Linked DNA regions of Homo sapiens. The protein of the gene in region 1 interacts with the protein of each later gene in a pairwise test. Each region holds a gene or a part of one and is shown on either strand. Other genes may lie near its edges.

Region 1 (7,527 bases):
AAGATAATCAATACCCAGATTTTAATTTTTTATGTGCTATTTCCTAGTATCTTTTTTCCTACTCCTCCTTTCACACTAAAACTTTTCCCACTTTATGCAAGAAATACACAGCTCCCTAAATCTTACTCTGGTGCATTACCCAGGGGTAAAAGCCCCAAAAGTGCCATGATTTCAAAATATTGTTCTCTTCTATAATGGTATGATGGTAATTTTCATTTAAAGACCTCAGCCACAATTATTCACTAGTTTTAGAGAATTATTTTTTTTAGAAGGATCTGGTAAGAAAAAAAGACAGGGGAGAAAAGTTAGAAGTTAAGTGACAGCAGCTGGTTTTTAGCCAATTATTCCTATCCTGAGATGGCCAGGTGGAAATGACCAAATCAAATCTCCTTGTAAACATGCAAGGTATATTCTGGTGGAAAGAGAATGGGGAGTCCTTGTCTATGAAATGCTTTTTAGCAGGGTACACCTGGTCTGTCTAGATGGCCTAAGGTAAATAAACCCGGAATTGATCGATATATTAATACATGGAATGGCCCAGTGGAAAATGTCAGTGTCCACCATGTAATTATTTCAGTATAAAACGGAGATAGTTCCTGACTGAAAGAGCTCCATCTGTGTAAGTGTTCACCGGCATAACTTACTCAGAGACCTCACCTGCGAGATCTAAGCCAGAATGTGTTCTAAGGAATTCGGGGAAGCCCTGGGGACCTGGGTTAGTGGTTTTGGATACTGCCATTATTTTCTTGTGACTGGGTAAAAGAAAGCTCTGAATCTTGTCAGTCTGATTTGACAATCCAATCCTTGTTTTACCTCAATAAGATATATTAAATGTTAAAAATGGCTTTTTACATGTTTCCAAATATACGCAATTATTTTCTGCTAATCTCAAGCACCCCTTTGGCCTAAGCAGATCCAAGTTTTGTGATGCTTGCAGCTTTCACAGTTTGAATGGCCTTCTGTAGGAAAATAATAAAAGTGAATCAAAAAATTACTAATTTAAAAAAGCTGACGAATACTACAGATACCACAAAATCCAGAAAAATAACATCATTCTATTATTCAGGTGCTTGGCACAGCCCATAATACTTTCCCCCACCTTTCTTGGCTCTATGCTGATTGCTTCTTCATATGAAAATGATTTTGCAACATATTCCACAGAGATAACAGATAATTCAGTTTTTCCTCTAGCATAGTTTATCAAGATTAGCTTTTTAATATAATTTAGGAAAGCTCAGTTCAGCTTCATAATTCAGTATTAAGAGTGTCACAGAATTTCACAATTATCGAATTTGGAAGGACCACTAATACAGGTTTTGACCAGGTACTGAGGAGCAAACCAAATCCTTTGCTTACACTTTTCTACAGATGAGCTTCTGGCCCTGTTCACTTTACTTGTTCCTTCTACCACATCCTTCTGGTACTGGGCACTGTAGGACCCAAACAGAAAGCAATATGGTGCCTGGCCAGTGTCTTTCTGTTTGGATGCCAGGTAATTCTGCAGTCAGTAGTACGAATATTCCTAGAAGTCAGCACTAGACTACTATGGCTAGCAGTAACTTAACCATACGTGGAAGCTTCTGTGAACATAAACATACCTCATAAAACAAAAATTAACCACACTGACTTACTGCAGTTTTTTGCTTGTTTGTTTGAGACAGAGTTTTGCTCTTGTTGCCCAGTCTGGAGTCAATGGCACAATCTCGGCTCACGGTGACCTCCACCTCCCGGGTTCAAGTGAGTCTCCTGCCTCAGCCTCTTGGGTAGCTAGGATTACAGGCATGCGCCACCACGCCCAGGTAATTTTGTATTTTTAGTAGAGACCGGGTTTCTTCATGTTGGTCGGGCTGGTCTCGAACTCCCGACCTCAGGTGATCCGCCTGCCTCGGCCTCCCAAAGTGCTGGGATTACAGGTGTGAGCCACCATGCCTGGCCTGCAGCTTTGTAGTTAAGTTTTGAAATTGGAATGTGTCAGTCCTCCAACTTCATTCTTCTTTTTCAAGATCTGTGTGTGTGTGCTCATGTGGCTATTCTGGGTCCTTATATTTCCCTGGATTGTATGAATTTTAGGATCAGCTTGCAAAATTCTGCAAAAAAGTCATTTGGGATCTTGACACGGATTGTGTTGCGTCTGGAGGTCCATTTGAGAAGTACTGCCATCTTCCCAATATGAAGTCTTTCAACCCTTTAACATGGGATGTCTTTCCATTTATTTAGGTCTTTAAGTTCTTTCAGCAATGTTGTATGGTCTTCAGCATACAAGTCTTGCACTTATTACATTTATTTCTAAGTATTTTATTCTTCTTGATAATATTATGAATGGAATTAATTTCATTTTTGAAATGTTCATTGCTAGTGTATAGAAATACTATTGATTTCTGTATGTTGACCTGTTGTCCTGAATCCTTGATGTACTCATTTATTAGTTCTAACAGTGTTGTAGTAAATTCTTTAGGGTTTTCTATATATAACAATTTTGTGTATAGAAATTCTACATGTTTTAAACACATTCATCTTTATGGCTGTTGGAAATTTAAAAAATTCTATTTAAATGTATGTACTTTTTAAATGTAAAGAAGTAGAGTAGATGACCAATAAAAGATTTCCTTTCTTTTTTTGGTGGGGGCCAGGGGGTACAGGGTCTGGCTCTATTGCCCAGGCTGGGGTGCAGTGGCACAATCTCAGTCACTGCTGCCTCTGCCTCCCCAGCTCAGGTGATCTTCCTGCCTCAGCCTCTGGAGTAACTGGGACTACAGATGTGTACCACCATGCCCAGCTAATTTTTGTGTTTTTTTGTAGGGACGGGTTTCGTCATGTTGCCCAGGCTGGTCTCGAACTCCTGGGCTCAAGCGATTCTCTTGCCTCGGCCTCTGGAGTAGCTGGGACTACAGGCATAAGCCACCAAGCCTGGCCAATATTTGCAAGACTAAAGAAATATTGACATACAATTTCACAATATGGAACGGAAATATGAGTTCAAGAAGAAAAGAAATGATGTAAAATTTCCTTCTGTTAAAAGCTTGTTCATGTAGTTTTAAAAATTGATGATTTTAGATATTAAATTGGTATTTAGATTCCACTGGCTACATTTAAAAGTTATATAACTTTTATTTTAAAATGTTAATTTATAATAAAACAGAAGTTGCTTCTTTTGTAACTATTTAAGTCAGATGAGAAATTGTGATGGTCAATCCAAAAACGTGGAAGTGAGAATACAGTCATAGTCTTTGGGGACTCCTTTGGGGGTATAAGAGCAAAATCATTTTGAAACCACTGTATTAATATATTCCTAATAGGTTTTGCTTTTTGGGATGACTGACTGCTACCTTTCTGAGATTTGAGGGAGTCACTTAACTGGTCCTAAGGCCAGGCGCGGTGACTCACGCCTGTAATCCCAGCACTTTGGGAAACTGAGGCAGGTGGATCGCTTGAGGTCAGGAATTCGAGACCAGCCTGGCTAACTTGAGGTCAAGCTTTCAAGACCAGCTTGGCCAATATGGTGAAACCCCGTCTCTACTAAAAATACAAAAATTAGACGGGAGTGGTGGTGCACAGCTGTAATTCCAGCTTCTCTGGAGGCTGAGGCATGAGAGTCGCTTGAACCTGGGAAGCAGAGGTTGCAGTGAGCCGAGATCATGCCACTGCACTCCAGCCTGGGCAACATAGTAAGACTCTGTCTCAAAACAAAACAAAAACACAACAACAACAAAACTGGTTCTAAATGCTCCGGGCAAGTACATACTGCTTTTTCTTTTTTCTGTTTTTTTTTCCCTAAGGCAGCCCTATTGAAGAGTCTGTCATCTACAATATTTTACTAATTTAAAAACACTTGTCAAGAAGGGTAAAGTATGTTCATCTTGATTTTACTCTTTGTATCCCGGAATCAGGAACTAACAGTTTTATGATAGTGATATAGACTTTACACACACACCAAGACTTAAAACACGTGGTGCAGGCGGGCTTTTGGAAATTAACTGTGCTCTGGATACAGAAGTCACAAAGCTCAGGCTGCAGAGACATTGAGGGGATAATCAGCCTTTATTGTCTCTCGTGCACTGTGCCCAGCGCTCCCTCTAGCGGCTACAAGCGCTCACTGCCCACACTCTCTACTAGGCTCTCCGGAGGCCTCGGTTTCGCTGGAGAGAAAGAGATTGCGCAGGCGCCGAGCAGCCGACGTGGCCGCAGGGGACCGTGCCTGGGGGGGTCTGCGCGGGGCCGCTGACTCGCGAGGTTCTCTGTCGCCTGCCGCCCTCGCTCCTTTTCTCCCCTTCTAGAGTGTTACGGTGACTCTTGGGTCCGAAGGGGACGGACGTCCTCCCACGTACCATTTAGAAGGTCAGAGTGGGCAGAACCTAGTCTGAGCAGGCCGGTGATGAATCCGCTGGCAAGACGCGCGCGTGGGTACTCACGTGACCTAGGCTGCGGCGGCGGCGTGCTGCGGGCTCTGTGGCGGGAGCGAGGCCGACGGGCGGGGCCGCGCGGCCGCGTGACGCGAAGCGTTCGAGAGCGCGCGTCGTGGAACGTCTTGGTTGCCACGGCAAGCGCGCGCGCGAGGCCTTGGGAACCTCGGGACCGGCCCCCGGCGAGCGCAGCGGCGCCCAGTGTAAGGGAGTGGGAGCTGGTCCGTGCCGCGGCGGCCGCGCAGGGAGCTCTCGAGGCAACGCCGGGGCGCCCGAGGTCTGGAAGGCGCAGGTGGGGCGCGGGGGAGTTCACCCCTGCGCGGTCCCTTGGGTGGGCGGGGTGGGCGCCCCAGGCCCCGCGGACTCGGCTGGGAGGCTGAGCGGGCGACGGTCACGGGACAAGGGTGGAGGGGGTGGGGACCTCATCCGAGTCTCAGAGATGGAATTTTCGAGGAAGGGAGCGATTTCGAGAGAGAATAGTTTGAGAAGTTGTTCTCAGTCCCTTCTCTCGCGGGAGTGTGGTATTTAGGGAAGCTTCGGCCTCTTAACCCATGGACTGTTAGGATGGAGGGAATCCTTCCCGCTCGATTCCTATCGCGGAGTCCTTTCGGAGCATCGCTATTGATCATTCTCGCCGCCCCAACCCCGTTGTTTACTTTGGCTTCGCAGATCTCTGTGGTCTTTTGCCCTCCCGCAGCGCCCATGGCCCCGTCAAGGTTGGGCAGCCTTTCTCTGCAAGAAGGCCCACGAACAACTGCGGTTATATTGGGATGGATTGCGCGTGATTTTACTCTTTACAATACATTCTTTCATGCTTCCTAGGGATTGAGCTGCGCGGCGGATCCCTCCGACTTAATTCTGGGCCTGAGAAAAGTTTCTCTTGGAATGCGCAGTTTCGTGACGCAGCATTATTGCGTGACTCTAGGGCTGACCCAGTTTTTCACTTTCTAATTGTAAGGAAGTGCGCTAGTAGTCCACCGAGGATCCTCGAGGTTGGCCTTATTGTATCATAATTTAACGAATTTGCGTTCCAGGTTGTTACAGCCTTTGAAATAATGGCCTCATATTTAAGAATGTAGCAATTTTTCTTTGAAATTTCCGAAAGTGGGGAAAAAAGTAATAGAAGACTGCACCTATATGGAATTATTTTCTGATTCGCAGTTCTTTATAATCGTAGACTTAATTTGGTGGCTTTATTGGACCTGTTTGAAACAGGAAGCCTTTCTGTAATGTGGTTTCGGGTCGGCTTCACCTCTGGCACTCTCTGAAACGTCGTTGTCTATGGTTTCCCTAAGAAGCTAGAATGAGCGGGATGCTACGGAGGGAGGTGTATACAGGTGTTAGACAAAGCCCCCTCCGCTTTTTTGGTAAAGGGCCAAATAGGCATTAGATCAACTTGTGCTAGCTCTAAGGAGTTAAATGCGGTATTATTAAAGACTGCTTGTAATGTTGACTGTTAAGTGAGAGTGTTACTTCTTTCAGTGTTTATGGAATCGAACTAAATTGCTAGGTATTTTAATGCAGAATTTTACCTTTTCTCGGGTATTTTTTAAGACATACACAGACATACATGTAGTTATGTTGAAATAAATGTGTTTTATTAGAACGTTAAAAAATTAGAATTTAGGTGAACTACTGGTATCGGAACAGATTTTGGTTTGTTGTTGAAGACTGTACACTGGTGTAGGTACTGTTTAATACATCAGATTGTCATTTCAAAGACTTTGTCTTCTTAACTTTGAAAATTAAATAATGTGAAATAATGTGATAATGGTTTTTATCTTTTCAGGACACTTGATTGACACTTAATTGTGCTTAGGAATAGAATAGGCTTTTTTTTAAGTCACCATCCTCCAATCCTTATTTCTGTAAAATGTATTTTCTGAGACCGCTGAGGATATAGCAAATCCCAGTCACAAAATAAAAATGTGATATTTTAATATAAACCTTTTTCTTTCTGTGTTGAGATTCCCCAGAGATTAGACTGAAATTGACCATTAGACTTATATATAACCTCTAGATACCCAGGCTCTTCTCTCGTGTATCCTTTTTTTCTCTTTAAGATGGAGATGTAGCAAGGAAGGTTATTAAGCAATCCTGTGGAATTAGCCCTCCCACTCCACCCCTACACACAGGCACACTCTTCTTTCTCAGTAGCCATCTTGTTCCCTCCATTGACACATTATTAGGAAATCTTTCATCACACCGTATGTAAAATAAGCTTAGAAATAAACGTATACCCAAGGTAAATATTGCTTCTAGCTATATTCCTTCATTATGCCTCGCTTCTACTTTCAAATGCTACCTATTGAAGATTTAAGCCACATGACTTTCTACGACGGGACACTCTGGGTTTTCTTCACCCCTCCCTCACTCTGCTGACTTGTAAACATAGTAGGACTTTTAGATTTGGAATCAAACACATCTCATCTAATTTTCATTTTCATTTTTCTTTTCTTTCTTTCTTTTTTTTTTTTTTTTAAAGAGACAAGGTCTTGCTCTGTCACCCAGGCTGGTTGGAGTGCAGTGGTGCAGTCATAGCTCACTGCAACCTTGAACTTCTGGGCCCAAGCGATCCTCCGGCCTCAGCCTGTGCAGTAGCTGGGATTACAGGCGAGAGCTCATTTAATTTTCTTGACAGATAATCTTCTGATCCATGAACTGATTTGAATGTATCATTTACTAGCTCTCTTCTTGGGCAAGCTGCTCAATATTTGTAAAACATTTTTAAAATCAGATATCAACCTCCAAGAGTGAGGATTGGATAACCTTAGAAGGGTGCCAGACACATATAGAGAGCTTAACAAAAGATAGTAAATTTTGGTGCTTCTGAGGGCCAGAGACAGACCATGTCCATTATATCTTTGCTATATATTATAGTTGTGAGTGATTTTTAAAGCAGTACTTTTAATTTGCTTGTGAACCCCCAAATAATTTTTGTAAAACTGTCCCTCTTGCACACTTTTGGTTAACTTACAGCATTTTACATCATGCGTTAGTTGAAAAGAATGCAGTTTCCCACATGGTATTGATATTAACATTTTAATATTGGTACATCATTCTTTCACCTGTATTCAGTGGGGTATCATATCTTTGTAGTTTTATATCCATCACCATCAATTTTTAA
Region 2 (5,878 bases), on another chromosome or scaffold:
TTAAGAATTCCTGTACCGTGAAGCATCCCGTCGTGGCAATCACATTCCTACCGGCCTGGCTCAGCACAGCCTGTGTTGCCTCTATGGGCTGAATTTTAAAAGACACAATTTGCTTTCTTTTTACTATCAAGAAGTTCATGTTTATTGTGGAAAATTTAGTAAATGGAAAATGTAAGAAAAAAAAAAAAAAGTAAATTGCCCATGCCTAGCTTCCAACCCAAAATGACATCTTGGTATTCTGGAGGAATGAGCTATACACACTCTTTTATAACCTGCTTTAGTATTTTGATAAAGCTTTCTTTGCTTATCATTAGGTATTCTTCTGTTCCTGCATGCTGGTGTTTCGTTATGTGGACACTTGATTTATCTAACCCAGCCCATGACTGGCTGTGTGTCGTCACGTGGCGCTGTCAGGCAGGCATGTCCCCAGGAGGCCATGTTTTGTGTTAAGTACACAGTCTTAGGCTCTCCCTGCCACACTCACCCTGCCATATGTGTCCTTGTCTTGTAGCCGAATCTGTGACCTCTCTGCCATCCCAAAACAATGGAACTACCAGCCCTGACCCCTTTGAGTCTCAACCCCTGACTGTCGCCTCAAGCAAGCCCAGCAGTGCCCGGAAAACACCTGAGTCCTTCCTGGGCCCCAACGCGGCCCTGGTGAACCTGGACTCACTGGTGACCAGGCCTGCCCCACCAGCCCAGTCCCTCAACCCTTTCCTGGCACCAGGTAGGCTCTCATCCCAGGCTTCATCCATTGCCTGCTGTGCCTGGGAATGGGTGTGCAGCAGGCCTCTTGGGGGCTCTTCCCACTGTGTGACGGGGAAGGGGTGGGACTAGCTGGAATCTCTAGATGATTACGTATGCCCTCGCCAGTGCTGCATGGGGTGGGGTGTGGAAGCCGTTGTCAGTTATGTGGGGAGTGTATGGGTAGGAAATAGCTCCTCTCCTCTCAGTTGAGACTACCAAGCAGAAACTGTCCCTGACTTGGTGCCCCCCCAGTTGTGAGACCCTCGAGGGAATGTCAGTTCTAAGACAGGTGGAGTAGGGTGGGCTGCTGGGGGTGAGGAAGAGCCAGGGTTTGGCGTGTAGCATTCCTCTCTCGGGAAAAATGTAACTTAGCCCTTGGGTACAAGCCTTCCTCCAGGTCCCTTGCTTCCACTCCTGGTGCCAGAGTCTGCCCCCTGCCCTCAGGGCTCAATGTTGGCTGCCGGCCAAGCCCCCAGCTGTTCAATTGGGTATCCAGGGCCATTATGGCCTGGTCCCACCCTCCTCTTCCCTTCCTGTGTGCATGAAACCCTTGTGACATCCAGCCCCTTGGCGCCCCTCAGCCTGTAGAGCCCTTCCTTAAGCCCAGGCTGTTACACACTCAGTTTCCCCTGCCTGGAATGTCCTCCCTCCTCTTCCCTAATGAAAGCATCTTCCTCATCCTTTGACACCTAGCTCAGATGACTCCCTTCTAGGAAGTCCACCCAGCCCCCTTCCTCACGGGGTTTCCCCAAAGCCTTGGGCTTCCCCCAGGGCAGGAATGTGTCACCCTCAGGTGTTCAGCCCCAGGCTGGCCCCACCATGTAGGGATCTGAGGATCTTGGGCCACCGTCCCTGACAGTACCTTGCAGAGGAGAATTACCACTGAACTTACAGAGGCTGAGGTTGGGGACCCTTGGGCAGAGGTGAGGTGTGTGGAGTTACTGGGTCCTGGCCAACCCTGAGGTCCTGAGATGGGTGAGGACATGGCTGCCCCCAGGGGAGGTGGTTCCCTGGGTGGAACTAGATTAGTTTCCAGCCTCCTCAGCCAGCCAGGAGTCTGTGTCTGCCCCAGGAGGCCTTATGCCTCTTCTGCCCAGAGAGCCCTTGAAGGCCCTGCAGGAGCTCCAGTGGTCATCTGTGTCTGTCAGCTCTTGGTGGGCACCTGGCTGGAGGCCTGAGGCAGCTTTGTTGGCTGCACACCAGTCATGGTTCCTGGGGGCTGCAGCCAAGATGGAGGAGGTTTGGGCAACTCTGCTGGACATACAGGGCCATTCTCCAGGCCACACAGGGTAGGGCCAGGCTGCATGGGAGAGTTGGTGCCAGCAGCGCACACACTTTTGCAAAGAAAAGGCTTTCTGGTATGAGGTAAATTCTGGAGACACTGGGAAAGACAAAGCTGCATCAACTTCTTGACTGCAGGATTTCTAGCCTTCGCGGTGTCATATGTGGATCCCTGGGTGCATTGTGGGCACTGCCACATGAGCCACACACTGCCAGTCCCATGTCCCTTTCAGCAAACAAAATGAGGGAGCAGTGGTAGCTGATGGCTGGTGAAGGTGTCCTGGGTGCCAGCACTGCAGAGGAGCCAGGGTGCCCCGAGATGGGTGTGTTCCTGGCATGGCCTTGTTCAGCTTTGTGACGCTGGACAAATCACTTGGCTTCTCACAGCCTCAATCTCCTCATCCTTAAAGTGCAGATTCATGCAGTCAGCAGATATTTGCTAGTGTCTGCCATGGACTCGGCCGGCACTGTCACGGGCTCTGAGGGCACAGCAGGGACCAGAACACCCGCATGCAGTCCCTGACCTGGGAGCTCAGAAAGCCACACCCTGACGGCTCAGCCTCTGCCCCTCCTTCTGTCTCCCCAGGTGCTCCCGCCACCTCGGCCCCTGTTAACCCTTTCCAGGTGAACCAGCCCCAGCCGCTGACACTGAACCAGCTTCGGGGGAGCCCAGTCCTGGGGACCAGCACATCCTTTGGGCCTGGCCCAGGAGTGGAGTCCATGGCTGTGGCCTCGATGACCTCCGCGGCCCCACAGCCAGCTCTGGGGGCCACTGGTTCCTCTCTGACACCACTGGGCCCTGCAATGATGAACATGGTGGGCAGTGTGGGTATACCCCCATCAGCAGCCCAGGCCACTGGCACAACCAACCCTTTCCTTCTCTAGTGCCTGGGCCTGGGACCCACCCAGAGCACCTGTGCTGGAGGATGCCGAGCAGGGACTCTCGTCTGTGGGACGGGATCCAAGAGTTTGGGGATTAGGGGTATTAGGGCTTTTCAGCTCCAGCTTCCTGATGAAAGGGCTGTCTTTACAGCCCCAACCCTCAGACCCTCGCCTTCCAAGGCAGGCCCCTCAGCCTGGCCTGCTCTCACCACCTCCTCCAAAGCACTGAGGTCCTGGCAGGGCTCCTCTGAGGCCTTGGACGAGGACGTGGAGTCATCAGTGTTGCCCTTGCCCCTAACCTCAGCCCGAGGGTCTCCAGGATGTTGCCTGGCCCAGGACTTGGGACAGTGGCCTTGTCTTTGTCCTCCCCACCCCCCAGCCCTAGGGACACCCCAGGCAGTCCTGGGTGTGGACACGATGAAGCACCGGCTCCATAAGACACCTTTTGGGGAAGTGGTTGTGCATATTTTATTTTTCTTTGACTCGTGTGAGTTCAAAGTAAACACCACCACCGTGGACAACTCTTGAATTAAATCCACTAGAGCGAGCTTTAAAACTAATCTGAGCATAACCCCCAACGTGGCTCTATGCTTGTGTACCTTTGCACATATTTTGTTTAGTACAGTTTCATATTTGAGTTTGCAGAATTATCTAATAGTCTTTTTTTGGCTAATATTTTTATAACGTGGTTCTTATTTAACTGTCTAGTTTTGATAGAATTTACCAGGTCTGGCTGAATGAAGATGTTGGCACGTGTCATTTTAGTGGTTTAAATCCTCTTATTTATGGTTTTAACTCTAAGAAAATTTTAAAAGGAAGAGATGTTTGGATGACAAAAAAATGCCTTATTGAAAAACTAAAGCAAATTCTTTATAGGAAGAAAATATGGGAATTTGATTACACATAGATGATGATGTTTATTTAAAAAAAAAACAACAGCAACAAAAAATCCTAGCCTCCAGTTGCCTTTTCCTTTCTTTAGCTCCTGTTTTTGGTGAATTACTAAACTGATTGACTTTCAGCCTTTTTGGCTAGATCCTGAGAGGCTATTTTTCTTACGAATATACCAACATCCTGAAAGTTAAAGAAAAAAATCTAATGTATGAATGTGACTCACCAATTTTTATCAACTAATTCCTTTTTTTTATTAAAGGCATGCAGGGATTAACAGGACTTCTGTTTACAATGGAAATCTGAAATGGAAGAAACATCTTTAACCTTGTGTGTCTGTGATCTCCTCTGTCTTAATCCACGCTCAGGCTAAAGATGGGGATAATGTGGAAATGGCAGTTGTCCCGAGGGCGTGGGGTGGGGGGTGCTTCTGTGCCCACGGGTCCCTGGGCAACAGTCCCTAGGCTAAGACAGGGGTGGGGGGCTAAGGGACCAGGGCTGGCCCTGATCCACCTACCTGCTAACTCCAGATATTATTTTTAAGTTGGAGACCTAAAAATAATTCTCTTGTATTTTGGAGATGAAGAAAAAAGTCATTCACCTGGGAGGGATTTTTAACAAACATGCACTAATATTACCTCCCTCTTCCAAACTCCTACTGTCCTCACCTCACCCACCACTGTAAAAGTATTACGTCGTGCATTAAAGACCAGAAAAGACTTGCTTTTACCCAGGGAGGGGACATTCCCCCAATCCTGTGTCTGGGCAGCTTGCCTGGTGGATGTTTCTGGCCCTTTTTCCACCATGGGAATTTCTCACCTCTAGCTCTAAGGGCAGCTGACCACCTGCCAGCCCCTCTCTGGTTCCAGAAGATTACCCTTCGCACCGGCACAGGAGAGATCTTAAATGGTCTCTGGGCTGCTGGGACATGCAGGCTCTGAGTGGGGACTGCACCCACTCATGCTGTTCCTGAGGCCGCCCTCTCCAGTCCCAGGAGCCGTGTCTAGAGTTCCTGACCAGCCACCTTCTGCCAGAACTGCAGGCCTGCGGCTGGGTCTTAGGCTCCCGCTGCCATTTGGGTAAGCCGGTGGCTGGTCTCGTCTGCCGGGGGAAGGGTGGGGAGGTGCAATGGGATGGGAGGCAGGATGCTTGCCCAGAAAGGTGCTTTCCTTCAGACGGTGCAGGGCCTGGGCCAGCCTTACAGGTCAGTAGACTAGACTCGACTACTTGGGGTCAGTGATTCTTTTGTAACGAGTCTTTCATGATGTGACTTTGAGGCCCCAACATGACAGCCACTGGGCCACCGGGACCCAAGAAGACAGCCCCCTGCCCCATCTTCTGGCACAGGCCATCCCGAGTGCATGTCCCTGTTGCCCACTGCACTGATCATGAAGCCACCGGCCACTGCCACGCATGTTGCACCTGTGCCATCGTGCTCCCTCCTGATGGGCACCGTGGTGGAGGAAGTCACCCAGCTGTTTCTCAGTCCCAGAGGCCGGTGGCTGGTTTTGAACTTGTGTTGACTGTTGATACTTATTTACTGTATAAATATAATTTATCATTTGTACCATGATGCGGTTTCTGGCTGTGTCCTTCTCCCACCCCATCTTCATCAGTCCTGTGCCACTGGAGAGGTGGGAGATGAGGGAGCCGATTCTTGTGGAGCTTGGTCTGCAGTTATTGAGGCCACCAGCCTGGTCCTAGTGCCCGCGTGAGCTGGGCATTTGGTTGCCCCTGAACCTCAGGGAAAGGGGGTGGGAGGCGTGCCTTTTGTGAGGTGCTGAGACTGGTGGCCTGCACGGGTGTGCTGGGGGAAGTGCTAGCCACTGCCCTTTACCCTTCTGTGTCCGCCCTCTTAATGCGGCCTTGTCACTGGTGGAGGCTGCTTTGGATGAGGTGGAAGTGACAGTGTGCCGGGTCCCCAGAGGCTTCCTGTGCTCTGCCTCCTCTTGTGTCCATGCTGCAGAAGAGCTGCTCTGGGAAGCCACTGCCTGTCAGCTGAGGCAACAGAGGGAGGGAGTGCGTGGAGCTGCCCAGCCAACTGCGTGTTCCTGAGAGGAAGGGCCTGTTGGAGCCA
Region 3 (7,028 bases), on another chromosome or scaffold:
CATGCCTGTAATCCCAGCACTTTAGGAGGCCAATGTGGGCAGATCACTTGAGGTCAGGAGTTCAAGACCAGCCTGGTCAATAGGGCAAAACTCCGTCTCTACTAAAAATACAAAAATTACCTGGGCACTGTGGCACGCACCTGTAATCCCAGCTGCTCGGGAGGCTGAGGCAAGAGAATCGCTTGAACCCGGGAGGCAGAGGTTGCAGTGAGCAGAGATCGTGCCACTGCACTCCAGCCTGGGTGACAGAGCAAGACTCCATCTCAAAAATAAATAAATAATAAATAAATAAATAAATAAAGATGTGGCGGGGCAGAGGAAGTATAAAACATGAAGGAATGAACACATCAATTCAGGCCAGTAGTCATTTCTTGAGAAAGAGGAAGGAGGAAAGGATGCAGGGTGGAACTTCAGCTATATCTATAACATTTAATATTTTAAAGGGAGTAAGACATCTAACAAATATGACAAAATGTTAATGTCCATCAAGTTGGGGTTGTAGACTCAAAATTGCCTGAGTTTTTCCCCTGAACTTTTCTAAATGTTTGAAATATCTCATTATGCAAAATTGTAAAATTAATAAAGGGCCAGGTGATTTGATGAATAGAGGAGTCAACACAAAAACAGTCAGGAGCAGAATGGTTTCCCAAAACTATAAGGAGATATCTGACTTGTTCAGTTTTAGACTGAAGAGGAGCCTTCACATCCCTCAAACAGCAGCGCTTAGAACAGGGTAGAGTGAGGACTGACAAAAATGGACAAGAAGGTTTATTGCCATCTCAAATCAGATAGCAGAGGGGAGTGAAAAACCACCTTCCCACATAATTTAAATGCTAGTGTAACCAAGTTATCTCCCCTAAAACAGCCAAGAAAGCTTCCAGTTACACAGGAATTCAGATAAGTACTCACTGTGAGTAGCTATTCTGTGCCTCCTTTCTACCCACCCCTTCCTTCTCCCAAATACTCACAAACAAAAACAAAATGTACCCTTGCCCACTTGAGAAAGAATTAAGACTTGGCAGCTCTGCTTAAGTGGACAGCTTCCAAACCAAGGCCCTTCTCTGGGGAAGATGCTGACAGAGCCCAGAGAAAAGAATTTAAAAATCACAACTCAGACAAGTTTTGAGGAAGGCCTATCAATGGAAGGTATCCATCCTTCCACACGTCCTTAAGTCCCAATTTCTCCCAGGGGAATCTAAGGACTTAGAGGATGCCCTCTACCCTGTTCTGTTCTCCTCCAGCAAAAGTGACTAAAACACAAAATCCAAACTCTCACTTAGCACTTTAAAACCAAACAATTTCCCTCCACAAAAATCCAATGAAAATGAAAATACAGGGAAGATGCAGAATCTGAGTATTTAATATTTTAAAGAGAGTAAGACATCTAAAACAAATATGACAAAATGTTAATGTCCATCAAATTTGGGATGTAGGCTCAAAATTGTTTCTGTTTGGGTTTTTTCCCTGAACTTTTCTAAATTTTGTTTAGATATTCTTTTTTTTTTAGATAAATATACTTTTAATCAGTGCCCAATTTATCATAGCTTATTTAACAAGTTTCAGTGGCACAAATAAAACTAAGTTTAAAAGAAAACAACTTAAAGGGAGCTTAGTGGCAGAGATAAAGACATGCAACAAAACAAATACCTTGACATTCTTCTACATCTGAATCACTACAGCTGAAAAATCCTAACACCTCATTCAGCCCAGTCCAGGGCACCGAACTGCCCCTCTTCCCAATGGTACTCTCAGGGAACATCTTTCTCAGTCAGACCTAGGAAAATACCTCTATTCACTTTGGACTGGTTAAAAAAAGACGGTAGAATGGAATGATGTTAAGTCCTTCTATCTGCTAGTACAATGCAATGTGGCAGAATGACACAAACACTGAAATGGGACTTGGGAGAGAAGAGAGAGGTGAATTCACCTTTATTAATCACCTAGTACATGCTGAAGACTGAATTCTAGACTAAGCTATCACAGAACCACTTCTGTGATCCTGAGTAAACCTCAGGTATTCTATTTGAAAATGAATGAGGAAAACTAAGAAAGCATCGCAGCCCCGCCAGTTGTCTGATTCCATGAATCTGTAAATATGATCACTCTCAATAAATGTGTTCAGTATAATGAAGTTATTGAAAGGAATTCTGCTTTCTCCATCTCCAATCCACCCTACACACCACTGACATAATCTTTCTAGGATGTGAAACGTATTAAATGGCTCCTGATATACTGCAGTATAAGATAAAGCTCCAGGCCGGGCGTGGTGGCTCTCGCCTGTAATCCCAGCACTTTGGGAGGCCGAGGCGGGCGGATCGCGAGGTCAGGAGATCAAGACCATCCTGGCTAACATGGTGAAACCCCGCCTCCACTAAAAATACAAAAAATTAGCCGGGCATGGTGGCGGGCGCCTGTAGTCCCAGCAACTCGGGAGGCTGAGGCAGGAGAATGGCGTGAACCCGGGAGGCGGAGCTTGCAGTGAGCTGAGATTGTGCCACTGCACTCCAGCCTGGGTGACAGAGCAAGACTCTGTCTCAAAAAAAAAAAAAAAAAGATAAAAACTCTGTATGATCCAGCGTTGCCTACCTCTTCAGCCTGCCCTCCATCCCATCCTCCAGCCATAATGATTAAGTAAAAGTTACCTGAAGAAGTCTGGCCTTCATTCCTTTAAGCTTTTGTTCATGGTATTTTCTCAGACTGGAATGTAATTCTTGTCATCTGTAGAGTATATCCTTAATTCATCTTTCAAGACTCAGCTCAAATGCTAACTCCTCAGGGAGGCTCTTTCCAACCTCAGCATGCCCAAGGCAGAACTGACCCTTGGGCTCCCACTCTCCCTGCTGCATACTTCTATCACAGCATCTATCACACTTCATTCTATCTATATATTTACATATCTGTCTCCTCCCACTAGACCCATACGCTCCTCGTGGGTTCCTTGTCTCCCTTACCTCCATCTCAGTGCCTAGGATGGTGTTTACAAGATAGGAGACATGTTTAGGTTTAGACGTGTTTAGGTTTATCAGTACCATTTTCTTTGCCCTTCTGCTCTTTCCCTAAACTTTAGTCCTCAGAGAGCTTATTAATTCTCTTGGCTACAGCTACCACATCTAGGCCATGAATTGCAAAACTGCATTTCCAAACCTACCCCCATCTTTACTCCAGCTCACACCCAGGACAGCCTTCATTTGGACATTTCATTGCCACTTTAAATCCAACACATCGCAAATTATACTCATCATATTTCCCCAAAATGAGGAAAGCTTCCTAACTTCTTTATTTCACTCAATGTCTCAGACACCCAGGCACAACGTGTCACAGTTGTAGTTGACTCATCACCCTTCTTCATCTCCCACATCCACCCCTCATTAATTTCCATTTTTCCTTCACAGTCTCTTTTTCACTCTTTCCTCTCCTTAGCCTACCCTCCACAACTCTAACTCGGGCCTCATCACTTCACACACCCCCAGTGTCAATCTCCATTCCCTCCCAGCCAACCTGTGTATTAGTATCATCATACTGCTATTCTATTCAAAAATCTTCTACCATTTAAAATATAAAGTTGACCGGGCACGGTGGCTCATGCCTGTCATCCCAGCACTTTGGGAAGCTAAGGTGGGCGGATCACTTGAGGTCAGGAGTTTGAGACCAGCCTGGCCAACATGGTGAAATCCTGTCTCTACTAAAAATACAAAAATTAGCTGGGCATGCTGGTGCACGCCTGTAATCCCAGCTACTCAGGAGGCTGAGGCACGAGAATCACTTGAACCCAGGAGGCGGAGGTTGCAGTCAGCCAAGATTGTGTCACTGCACTCCAGCCTGAGCTGGACAACAGAGCAAGACCCTGTCTCAAAAAAATAAATAAATAAATACATAAATAAATAAATAAATAAATTTTATATATATATATAAACTTATAAGCCTAGCTTTTTAACACCCTCTATAAACATAGCTCCAAACCAACCTACCCACCTTCATTTCACTACTGCTCACTGCCACTCAGGTTAGTCTCCTCACCGCCCCAAGAACATCTCAGGTATAGTCCTGTTTCCAGGCTTTCGCTTGATCCCTTTCAGCTCCAATATGAAATGTTTTGTTATCCTCTTCATCTTCATCCCTTGTACCTAATACAATAACACTTATTCATTTATTTTTTTATTTATTTTGGAGACAGAGTCTTGCTCTGTCACCCAGGCTGGAGTGCAGTGGTGCTATCTCGGCTGTTTGCAACCTCCATCTCCTGGGTTCAAGTGATTCTCCTGCCTCAGCCTCCTGAGTAGCTGGGATTACAGGCGTGAGCCACTGTGCCTGGCCTATTTTTTTATTAAGATCTGAAATGAGTTATAATTCCTCTGTGACATAACTACCTGAGTACTCCTCTCCCCAAATACCTACGGTATGAGGTCTGCACTATGCAACTAACAATATAGTTTCACATTTTAAAATTTTGTGTGGCATATTAAGAGGCTCAGCAAGTATTCATTCCTTTTTATTCTTCTTACTCCCAACTGGACTGTAAACTCTTCAAGGACACAAAGTTGTCATTTTTCCTAATCCTCCATAGCACCTAGCAAAGAATTAAACTCATAGTGGGTCACTACAAATAACAGTTTAGTAATTTTCTTATCTACAGCTATTTCTTAGAGGAAATAAAGGGCTAAGGTATAATCCTAAAAAAAGCACAGTTGAAAATAATCCCTATCTAGTTGTATAAAATAAGATTCCTGACTTTTCCACCTGATTTCTAGCTCAGAAATACTACAATCTCCTGACTCAAGAAGTAAATAATAATCCTGTGCTCGTGACATCAGTTTGGTAATGATTATAAAGAGGTGGGGGAGAGTGGCAGGGATGGAGAAAAGCAAGTCAACTGGAGAAGAAAAAAAAGGGATGAAAGAATGGCATGTGATTTTGTTTACTTCTTAAATGTGGACACTTCTGCCCATTCCTTTTTTTTTTAATTGGACATACTTTCAAACAACTTTCCTACAGGAGGAAAAGTCTGACAGATTTTCAATGAAGCTGATATCTGGAAGAGCCTCTACAAAGCACAAGTCCTTTGAGAAAGCCGGCTTAATCTTCAACAACACAACATAATGTAGTGGCATTCGTCCAGATACTGTGAATGAAGGCTCATTCTGGCTGGAACACAAGCATCACCTGCCAGTCATTCTCAGACATAAGACAGACAGCCTAGGAGGCCACATTGGATCCATACAGATTTTGAAAAGAAATTGGTCTATCAACATATTCAGTGTAGTCTAGTCTTAATTATCTACAAATGGATTATTCATTTTACGGATTTCTAAGGCCAAATCTTTAATGCAAGAATGACTGTTCTTCATCATCAGTGTACTCTCCCCACCATCAGGTAATATAAGCTTAGAAATGCAAATTTATTTCAATATTAGTATGATCCCCAAAAATGAAAATAAATCTAGTTTAAAAAATAATGTATTTTCGGCCCGGCACACTGGCTCACGCCTGTAATCCCAGCACTTTGGGAGGCCGAGTCAGGCGGATCACGAGGTCAGGAGATCAAGACCATCCTGGCTAACACGGTGAAACCCCGTCTCTACTAAAAATACAAAAAATTAACCGGGCGTGGTGGTGGGCGCCTGTAGTCCCAGCTACTCGGGAGGCTGAGGCAGGACAATGGCATGAACCTGGGAGGCAGAGCTTGCAGTAAGCTGAGATTGCGCCACTGTACTTCAGTCTGGGAGCAAAGTTGTCATTTTTCCTAAACCTCCATAGCACCTAGCAAAGAATTAAACTCATAGTGGGTCACTACAAATAACAGTTTAGTAATTTTTCTTATCTAAAACTATTTCTTAGAGGAAATAAAGGGATAAGGTATAATCCTAAAAAAAACACAGTTGAAAATAACCAGGAAATGTCTTTGTTAAGTTCTGAATTACCTACAACAGTGCTCCCTACATTAGCAGAGACAACTGAGAGTTAAATGCACTTGAAACATAATGCTGTCCTTACTATAAGCTCTTGAGGAGAATCCGGCCATAGTCTTGAGACTTCCCCACAGGTTGGTGCACTACGAGACAGGAACAAGCAGGCTCAGCATAGTAAGGTGTGTAAACACAAAAACTTCTACAAGGAATCTTATGCCTCCTGGCTGTATCCCTTCAGGTTAGGATGGTACAGAAAATAAGAGTCACAATGTACGGATGCCTGCCTGATTCCTTGTCCCTGAGTTCCTGAACCAAAGGGCTCAATATTTCTCATTAAATCCGTCCTTTGTTCAAGGACCTACAATGATTCTATTGACCCTTCTATCAACACCCAACAGAGTCTGGCTTCTGAGTCCCCTCCACCCTCTTGCCTGCTCTACTCATGACTTGCCCAACCCACATTCTCTACAGTCACTCTCATATATTCCCCCCACTCACAACTTAGTCATTCATATCATCATTGCACACTGTACATTCTATACTTTCTGTTTGGAAGATCCTTTCTTTTCTTTTATTCCCAACACAGTAACTATTTCATTTACTTGAATGCTCACATTTTACAGATAAGGAAAAGAAGTTAACTTGTCCAAGGTCACATGGTAAAAAATAGCCGCAAGGTCTGAACGAAGACCCATCTAACTCAATAGCCCATACCTCTTTATGACTCATCCATAGCCTCCCAAGTCCATTTCAAAATTTACTGACTCAGAAATCTCCCCAATTTATTTCACTGATTCTTACTTTGTTACTTTAAGTCTTCTCAGCCCTTACATACTTATCAGCACGTTAAATTTGCTTTTGTCTATATGTTGTTTCCTAAATGTTAAAGCTCATAATAGTCTGCCTTCCCATATTTATACACCACCTTTCCCATCCACCCTCAACCCCAAGAGCAAAGACACATGTCTTTACATCTTTTATACCTCCCTAAAGCCTGTCACTGGAGCATGGAGACTGCTTTATCCAGAGAAGTGTTCAATCATTACTCAGCAAGGATGTCTTATTTAAAAACAAACAAACAACTCTCTTCTATTATATTAAAAAGTCAACTGAATTCAGGCA
Region 4 (7,028 bases), on another chromosome or scaffold:
CAGAGGAACCTGTCTTGTACAACAGGTAGTTAATGAGTTTTAGAAAATTATACCTGGCTGAGCACGGTGGCTCATGCCTGTAATCCCAGTACTTTGGGAGGCCAAGACAGGCAGATCACAAGGTCAGGAGATCGAGACCATTCTGGCTAACACAGTGAAACCCCATCTTTACTAAAAATACAGAAAAATTAGCCGGGCGTGGTGGCGGGCACCTGTAGTCCCAGCTACTCGGGAGGCTGAGACAGGAGAATGGTGTGAACCTGGGAGGTGGGACTTGCAGTGAGCCGAGATCAAGCCACTGCACTCCAGCCTGGGCGACGGAGAGAGACTCCGTCTCAAAAAAAAAAAAAAAGAAAATTATACCTGTGGTGCAGTAGAGTTTTTGGTGTGTCGTAAACATTCATGAAATTCCAGCCTGGCCAACATGGCAATACCCCTTCTGTACTAAAAATGTAAAAAAATAGCCTGGCATGGTCGCGGACTCCTGTAATCCCACCTACTCAGGAGGCTGAGGCACAAGAATCGCTTGAACCTGGGAAGCGGAGGTTGCAATAAGCGGAGATCGCGCCACTGCACTCCAGCCTGGGTGACAGAATGAGACCCTGTCTTTAAAAAAAAAAAAAAAAAAAGAAGGAGTTCATAAAATTGCCAGACTAGAAGAGAGTACCCGCTAGTATAGCTGTTAAATTTTCCATTTCCTAGATCGCATGAAGATGGGTCCTCAGATGGCAGGTTGCATCAGGTACAAGCAGAAACGAAGTCACTACTCTTCTGGGGAGGAGCAGGATGGAGTGGGGTGGGGGTGTGAGGGCCTCCCTACTCCAGCGGCCTTGGTTGGGGCTTTTTTGCTGCCATACCCCAGCTTCTGCCGAGAACAAAGAAGCAGAGTGACACGGTCGTCCTAGTGCTTCCGTGTTGTTCCTGGTGTGCTGGTGACACGTGGACTGTGGGTTTTTTGGGAATCAGTATGAGAATTATTTTGGAAAACTGCATTTCGTAGTCTGTATTCTGAACTTGACAAATGAACTAGCCTGCAAACTTTAGGATCATGAGGAAGCACCCCCAGTATTTCAGGGAGCAGAGCCATTGTCAAATCCAGAGGCACTTGAGGGTTCTCTGCCCTGTTGTAAATGGCAGGAGTGTGTCTTCCTAGTAGCTGCGTCCCCCCAACATCCCCTCAGCCTGGCCAGTTTTGTGTGAAGGAGTGAGCCCCTGAAGCCGTCAATCCCTTTTTCAAAACCGTTTTCAGTCTTGAGAGTAACAGAAATTCCAGTTACTCTGAAAATGCCAGTGTTGAGAGGTGAAGTGTGTGCTTAGATTTTCTTTCCCAGCAAGCAGTTGTGTGTGCTGGGTGTTTCAGAGCCTCTGTGGCAGCAAAGGGTGGTGGAAAGTGAGCTGCCAGCAGGGCGTCTGCCCGGCCACCTGAGACGTCCGAGGACGGCCTGTCCTGGGGTGGTGCCCCGGCCCAGCTCCAGGCTGGGCCATGCTCCTGACCCACAGGCTGAGCCTGCTACCGGGTTTAGAAAGTGCCCAGTGAGGGTTTCATCCTTTTCTGATAGTCAGGTAATTCTACCATCAAACCTCAGGGGATCTGTAAGAGCAAGAAAATAGTCAGCCTTCTCTCCGTCCAAGCTCTGAGTTCTGAAGGGTTTTCAGGCCAGGCTATGGAAACTGTGGGTATTTTGTGAAACACAGAAGTGCAGCCCCTCTCCTCTCACCCCACGATTCCGGCTGGGGAGGCGCCATATTTGGTTAGGTGGGCACTGTTTGGTGTGGTGTGCGGTGCTGTGCTGTGCGGTGGTGTGCTGTGCTGTGCTGTCGTGTGTCGGGCTGTATGGTGCTGAGGTAGATAATAGAGTGGAGTCGTGGAGCTCTGGACCGACTTGGGCACGAACATGCAGGCACATGTGCCGACCTCAGTCTTCATCACACGGCACCATCAGTGTTTGCCATTCTTCACAAAATGGTGAGCCGACGCGCCTAGCCCCCGTGTTCAAAGGAAAGCAGGACTCCCGCAAGCCAGTGCCACGTGCATGAATCAGGGACAGCTGTGTGCTGTTTTGCAGAGAGGATGCTGGCCGAATTGAGGAGCAGGATCTACCCCTGCCAGCAGTTGGCTGTGAGATCTTTGTAATGGCAGGGTTGGAAGGGGTCATGGCCGTCTGCTCCAACTTCCTCCTGGAGTTTGCACTCAGTAGCTGTCAAGATGGCTTCCCAGGTCCCCCGTGAGCGCTGCTCGGAGGTGGCTGTGGTGTGTGTGAAGGGGATCCCCTCACTGCTACCCATGTGTTGCCTCCCGTTCCCTGCCCGGGTGTGGCAGGGTTTCCAGGGCCCTGGTGACTGCGTGCCCATTGGTCCACCTTCAAGCCGCCCAGGGGTGCAGCATGGCTGTTGCTTCGTGAGCTGGGCCACGCCGAGAGCAGTCATGCTAAGTGCCCCTCTTATCCCAATCTCGGGATGCAGCATGGCTGTTACTTAGTGAGCTGAGCCAAGCTGAGAGCAGTCATGCCGAGCGCTCCTCTTATCCCCATCTCAGGCTCTCTGTGAGCCAGTCTTCTTTCTGGGCAGCCTTTCTGGCCCCTTTCATGCGTCTGTGGAAAAAAGAAAAACAGCTACCCAAAACTTAGGTAGATCTTTAGGTCATCAGGAAACAATGGATCTGCTGTTTTCATTTAAAATTATTTTCCAGATCTTTCTAGACCAAAGAAGCAATTCTGGTGGCCGCGAATTGTCAGTAGGGTGTGGTATATCAGAGCTGGGAGCTTGCTTCAGGAGTACTCCATGGGCTGGGGATCAGCTCACTGGTGCTATGATGCTTCATTTGGCATCTACCATTAGTGGGAATTCTTTAATTTCATCCATGGTGTAATTTCTTAGCTCATAAGAAAACCCAGTAAATTCCTGGTGTAGCTTGGGATGCCAGGTCCTATATTATTAGAATTACGATTTACTTATTTTCTACCTTGAAATTTCTATTTTTCCCCAGTGTGCTCATGGGAGCTTAGAAGATCCCAAAAGTATAACCCATCATAAATTAATCCACGCTGCCTCAGAGAGGGTGCTGAGTGATGCCAGGACCATCCTGGAAGAGAACATCCAGGACCAAGGTAAGGCTGCTGTGGGCGGGCGGGTTGGCAGCAGGCATCGTGCACTGCTGGGGGCGCTGGAGCCAGGAGGGGGTGGTCCACCCACAGGAGTCAGTGTTCTGAGCTGGACACGAGCACAAAAACGAGATCGACTAAAAGCATTCTGTTTTTCCTTTATTAAAAAGAGTTCTGTTATAGAGTATTTGTGAAAAACAGCAGAAATTGAAATTGAACAAGCAGCAGGCATTTGAGAAGCCAAATGTGAATTTTGCTTTTAGTTCTGTTTCAGAGCAAAGCCAGAGACTCCAGGGGTTCTGCAGGTTTCACCTTCGTTGTGGTGATGTTGGCATCCCAGTGCAGTGTTAGACACACACATCCATGTAATTGCTTATGGTTTTGTGTCTGGAGGCACTTGAAGAGCAGACATCAGTTTTGTCTGTGTCATTCAAATAATGCCTTTAATTGTGGAAGTCCTTGAAGTAAGCTGTTTTGAAAATCCTGGAAGTATTGCTAACAGATATCCGCTGAGATGACCATCAAGCTCCAAGCCAGTGGGGGATGGGCACCGTCGTGGGCCGAGGATGAGCTGCATCTCAGGTTTTGACCTCTGAGGGTTAAGACTAAACTCTCCACCCTCACAGACTTTTTCAGAACTGAGCCGGTTAAAATGCCTGTTGCAGGATTGTCACCAATTCTTTGCACAATTATTGGGGCCGTGCTGTGCCTGCCTCCTGGGCCATGGGTCACCTGGGGGTTCGTGCCAGGCCTGGGAGCTTGTACCTCAGCTAGGGCCATGCAGATATCATGCAAAAGTGAGGGAAGGCTGGTGTAGATGCTTGGTTTGGGGGGACCAAAGGAACCCATGCTCTTTTGAGACAGGGTGTCGCTCAGTCACCCAGGCTGGAGTGCAGAGGCACAGTCAGGCTCACTGTTGCCTTGACCTCCTGGGCTCAAGCAGTCCTCCCACCTCAGTCTCCCAAGTAGCTGGGACTACGGGCATGTGCCACCATGCGCAACTATTTTTTATATTTTCGTAGAGATGGGGTCTCGCCATGTTGTCCAGGCTGGTCTTGAACTCCTGGGCTCAAGTGATCCGCCTGCCTCGTGCTGGGATTACAGGAGTGAGCCACTGCACCCAGCTGAAGCCCTGCTCTTCTTCTTTTTTTTTTTTTTTTTTAAGATGAAGTCTTGCTCTGTTGCCCAGGCTGGAGTGCAGTGGTGCAATCTTGGCTCAGTGCAACCTCCGCCTCCCAGGTTCAAGTGATTCTCCTGCCTCAGCCTCCCCAGTAGCTGGGATTACAGGCATGCGCCACCACGCCTGGCTAATTTTTGTATTTTTAGTAGAGATGGGGTTTCACCGTGTTGGCCAGGCTTGTCTTGAACACCTGACCTCAGGTAATTTGCCCGCCTCAGCCTCCCAAAGTGCTGGGATTACAGATGGGAGCCACTGCGCCCGGCCGAATCCCTGCTGTTCTGTTCTCAGGGCATCCAGCACCCTTTATGCCATTTTGTGGATATGAAGTGATAACCAGTGTGTTGGATATACGTGTTGTTTTTTCTAGATGTCCTATTATTGATAAAAAAGCGTGCTCCATCACCACTTCCCAAGATGGCTGATGTCTCAGCAGAAGAAAAGGTAAATTTCAAAGTTTGCAATTGGGGACCTTGGTTGGTAGAAGTCTACATTTAAGAATTACAGGCTGGGTACAGTGGCTCGCGCCTGTAATCCCAGCACTTTGGGAGGCCGAGGCGGGTGGATCACGAGGTCAAGAGATCAAGACCATCCTGGCAAATATGGTGAAACCCCGGCTCTACTAAAAATACAAAAAAAATTAGCTGGGCATGGTGGCTCATGCCTGTAGTCCCAGCAGCTCAGGAGGCTGAGGCAGGAGAATCTCTTGAACCCGGGAGGCAGAGGTTGCAGTGAGCCGAGATCGTGCCACTGCACTCCAGCCTGGCGACAGAGTAAGACTCCATCTCAAAATTAAATAAATAAATACAAACTTAAAAAAAAAAGAATTATAAAGAAGTTCTCTATACTAGTTGTTCACCAACCCACGCATTCGCCATTTACAGTAGATGTGGTTATAAGGGGTTCTCTCTCCCGGCAGAGCCTGTTTAATCCGTGTCAGTCCTGGTCCCTCCCTGCTCACGGGACCAGCACGGAAAACCTGCCTCTGAGTTTTCTGAGACAGAGAGGAGGGTAGGGACACATCCTGCGTGACGGTTCACTCCCGCGCTGCTGTCCGCCTTCACCTGCGTGTGCTCCTGTTCCCTCCTCTTTTCAAGCAGCCAAGTCAGTCCTGACAGAAAAACGGAGGAAAGTGGGTAACCAACCACCACACAGAATAAGGGCTGCGCATGCAGAGAGTGGCCGGTGAGGGAGCACTCGCGACAAGCCCCACCTCACACCGCACAGCCTCAGCATCCCCATCGGAAAATCCAAACGCAGAAATGCAGCGCAGTCTGAAACTTTTTGAGTGCCAAAATGACACTTAATGGAAGTGCTCGTTGGTGCTTTTTGAGTTGATTATTTGGAATGCAAATATTCCCAAATCTGAAAAAACCCGAAATCCGAAACAGTTCTGGTCCCGGGCATTTCAGATGAGGGATACTCAGCTGCACTGTTAATGCTGAGAGAGGCTGAGTTCTGCCTGTCTTGTCTATTTCTTGCAAAACAGAACTGGATGTCGTTGGTGTTTACATTCACTCACACGTTATTGATTCATGGTCTGCACCGTCCACTTGCACGTGTACCTTAGGAACACCGTGCAGTGTGTTGTTTACTGGCTGCCCTAGAAGCTCATGTTTTGGAAAGCTCACTGAGCAGAGGAAGATGCGTTCTGCAAGTGGCGTGTCCTACCCCACAGCAGGGCCTGAGCCCGTGCCGAGCATGGAGCCTGCCAGCTAGAAGGGCAGCCACTTTCCTCTGCTGTCTTTGCATTACTCATCTCAAGGGTAGAATTTCTTACTCGTGCTTTGAAAGGCTAAGGAGAGTGTTCACCCCAGAGAAAGAGCAGGTCAAACTCTTTTGGGCTAGGCCCATGCCTGGTAGTGCATAAGCTATTTTTGGGTTTCATCTGGGACCATGGGTACCCAGGAAGAGCACCCTGGGCTTGGGTCCCCTCCTTATCTTCAGCCACACCTGGCCACGCATGAGTGACACACAGGCTGCCGCCCCACCCATCTGCAGCGGACAGATCTGGGCCTGCCTCCGCCTGTCCCTGAGTCAGGCCTGTTTCTGGGAACTGCTGCAGGCAGCATTCACAGTTCTCAGATTACAGTTTGACCGTTGGTGTTCAGACTTACAGGCCCGTAACTAATATAAACAGCGGGGTCTGACCATACACCCGTTGCCCCACAGCCTCTTGGATGGGTAGCTTGGAGCTAACCTGAGGAGCTTACCTTTTCTCTTCAAATATTTGCAAACTGAAACATTGTAAGATGTCAGTTCATATTTTTATGAATTAATTATTATTATTTTTATTATTATTTTATTATTTTTGAGACAGAGTTTCGCTTTTGTTACCCAAGCTAGAGTGCAGTGGCGTGATCTCAGCTCACTGCAACCTCCGCCTTCCAGGTTCAAACGATTCTCCTGCCTCAGCCTCCCAAGTAGCTGGGGTTACAAGTGCGTGCCACCACGCCCGGCTAATCTTTTGTATTTTTAGTAGAGATGGGGTTTCACCATGTTGGCCAGGCTGGTCTCGATCTCCTGACCTCGGGTGATCCACCTGCCTCGGCCTCCCAAAGTGCTAGGATTACAGGCATGAGCCATTGCGCCTGGCCTACATTAATTTTTAATTTAGTTTTTGTTTTTGTTTTAGAGACAGGATCTCACTCTGTTGCCCAGGCTGCAGTGCAGTGGTACAATTATAACTCACTGCAACCTTGACCTCCTGGGCTCAAGCAGTCCTCCTGCCTCAGCCTCCCGAGTAGCTG

Evidence for each region.
Region 2: the proteins of SPART (region 1) and EPN2 interact in binary tests that used the Homo sapiens proteins (3 or more experiments, as listed by UniProt).
Region 3: the proteins of SPART (region 1) and OTUD7B interact in binary tests that used the Homo sapiens proteins (3 or more experiments, as listed by UniProt).
Region 4: the proteins of SPART (region 1) and UBAC1 interact in binary tests that used the Homo sapiens proteins (3 or more experiments, as listed by UniProt).

Annotation. Positions count from the first base shown.
Region 1 is NC_000013.11:36,343,390-36,350,916, reverse strand, and holds the start of SPART (spartin), read left to right. Parts: upstream 1-4,522; 5' UTR 4,523-4,692; intron 4,693-4,783; exon of another isoform or gene 4,784-5,116; intron 5,117-5,342; exon of another isoform or gene 5,343-5,737; intron 5,738-7,527. UniProt on the Homo sapiens protein: Lipophagy receptor that plays an important role in lipid droplet (LD) turnover in motor neurons.
Region 2 is NC_000017.11:19,331,342-19,337,219, forward strand, and holds the end of EPN2 (epsin-2), read left to right. Parts: intron 1-511; coding exon 512-727; intron 728-2,614; coding exon 2,615-2,913; 3' UTR 2,914-5,374; downstream 5,375-5,878. UniProt on the Homo sapiens protein: Plays a role in the formation of clathrin-coated invaginations and endocytosis.
Region 3 is NC_000001.11:150,000,714-150,007,741, forward strand, and holds part of OTUD7B (OTU domain-containing protein 7B), read right to left. Parts: exon of another isoform or gene 5,992-7,028; intron 1-5,991. UniProt on the Homo sapiens protein: Negative regulator of the non-canonical NF-kappa-B pathway that acts by mediating deubiquitination of TRAF3, an inhibitor of the NF-kappa-B pathway, thereby acting as a negative regulator of B-cell responses.
Region 4 is NC_000009.12:135,951,374-135,958,401, reverse strand, and holds part of UBAC1 (ubiquitin-associated domain-containing protein 1), read left to right. Parts: intron 1-2,986; coding exon 2,987-3,107; intron 3,108-4,648; coding exon 4,649-4,722; intron 4,723-7,028.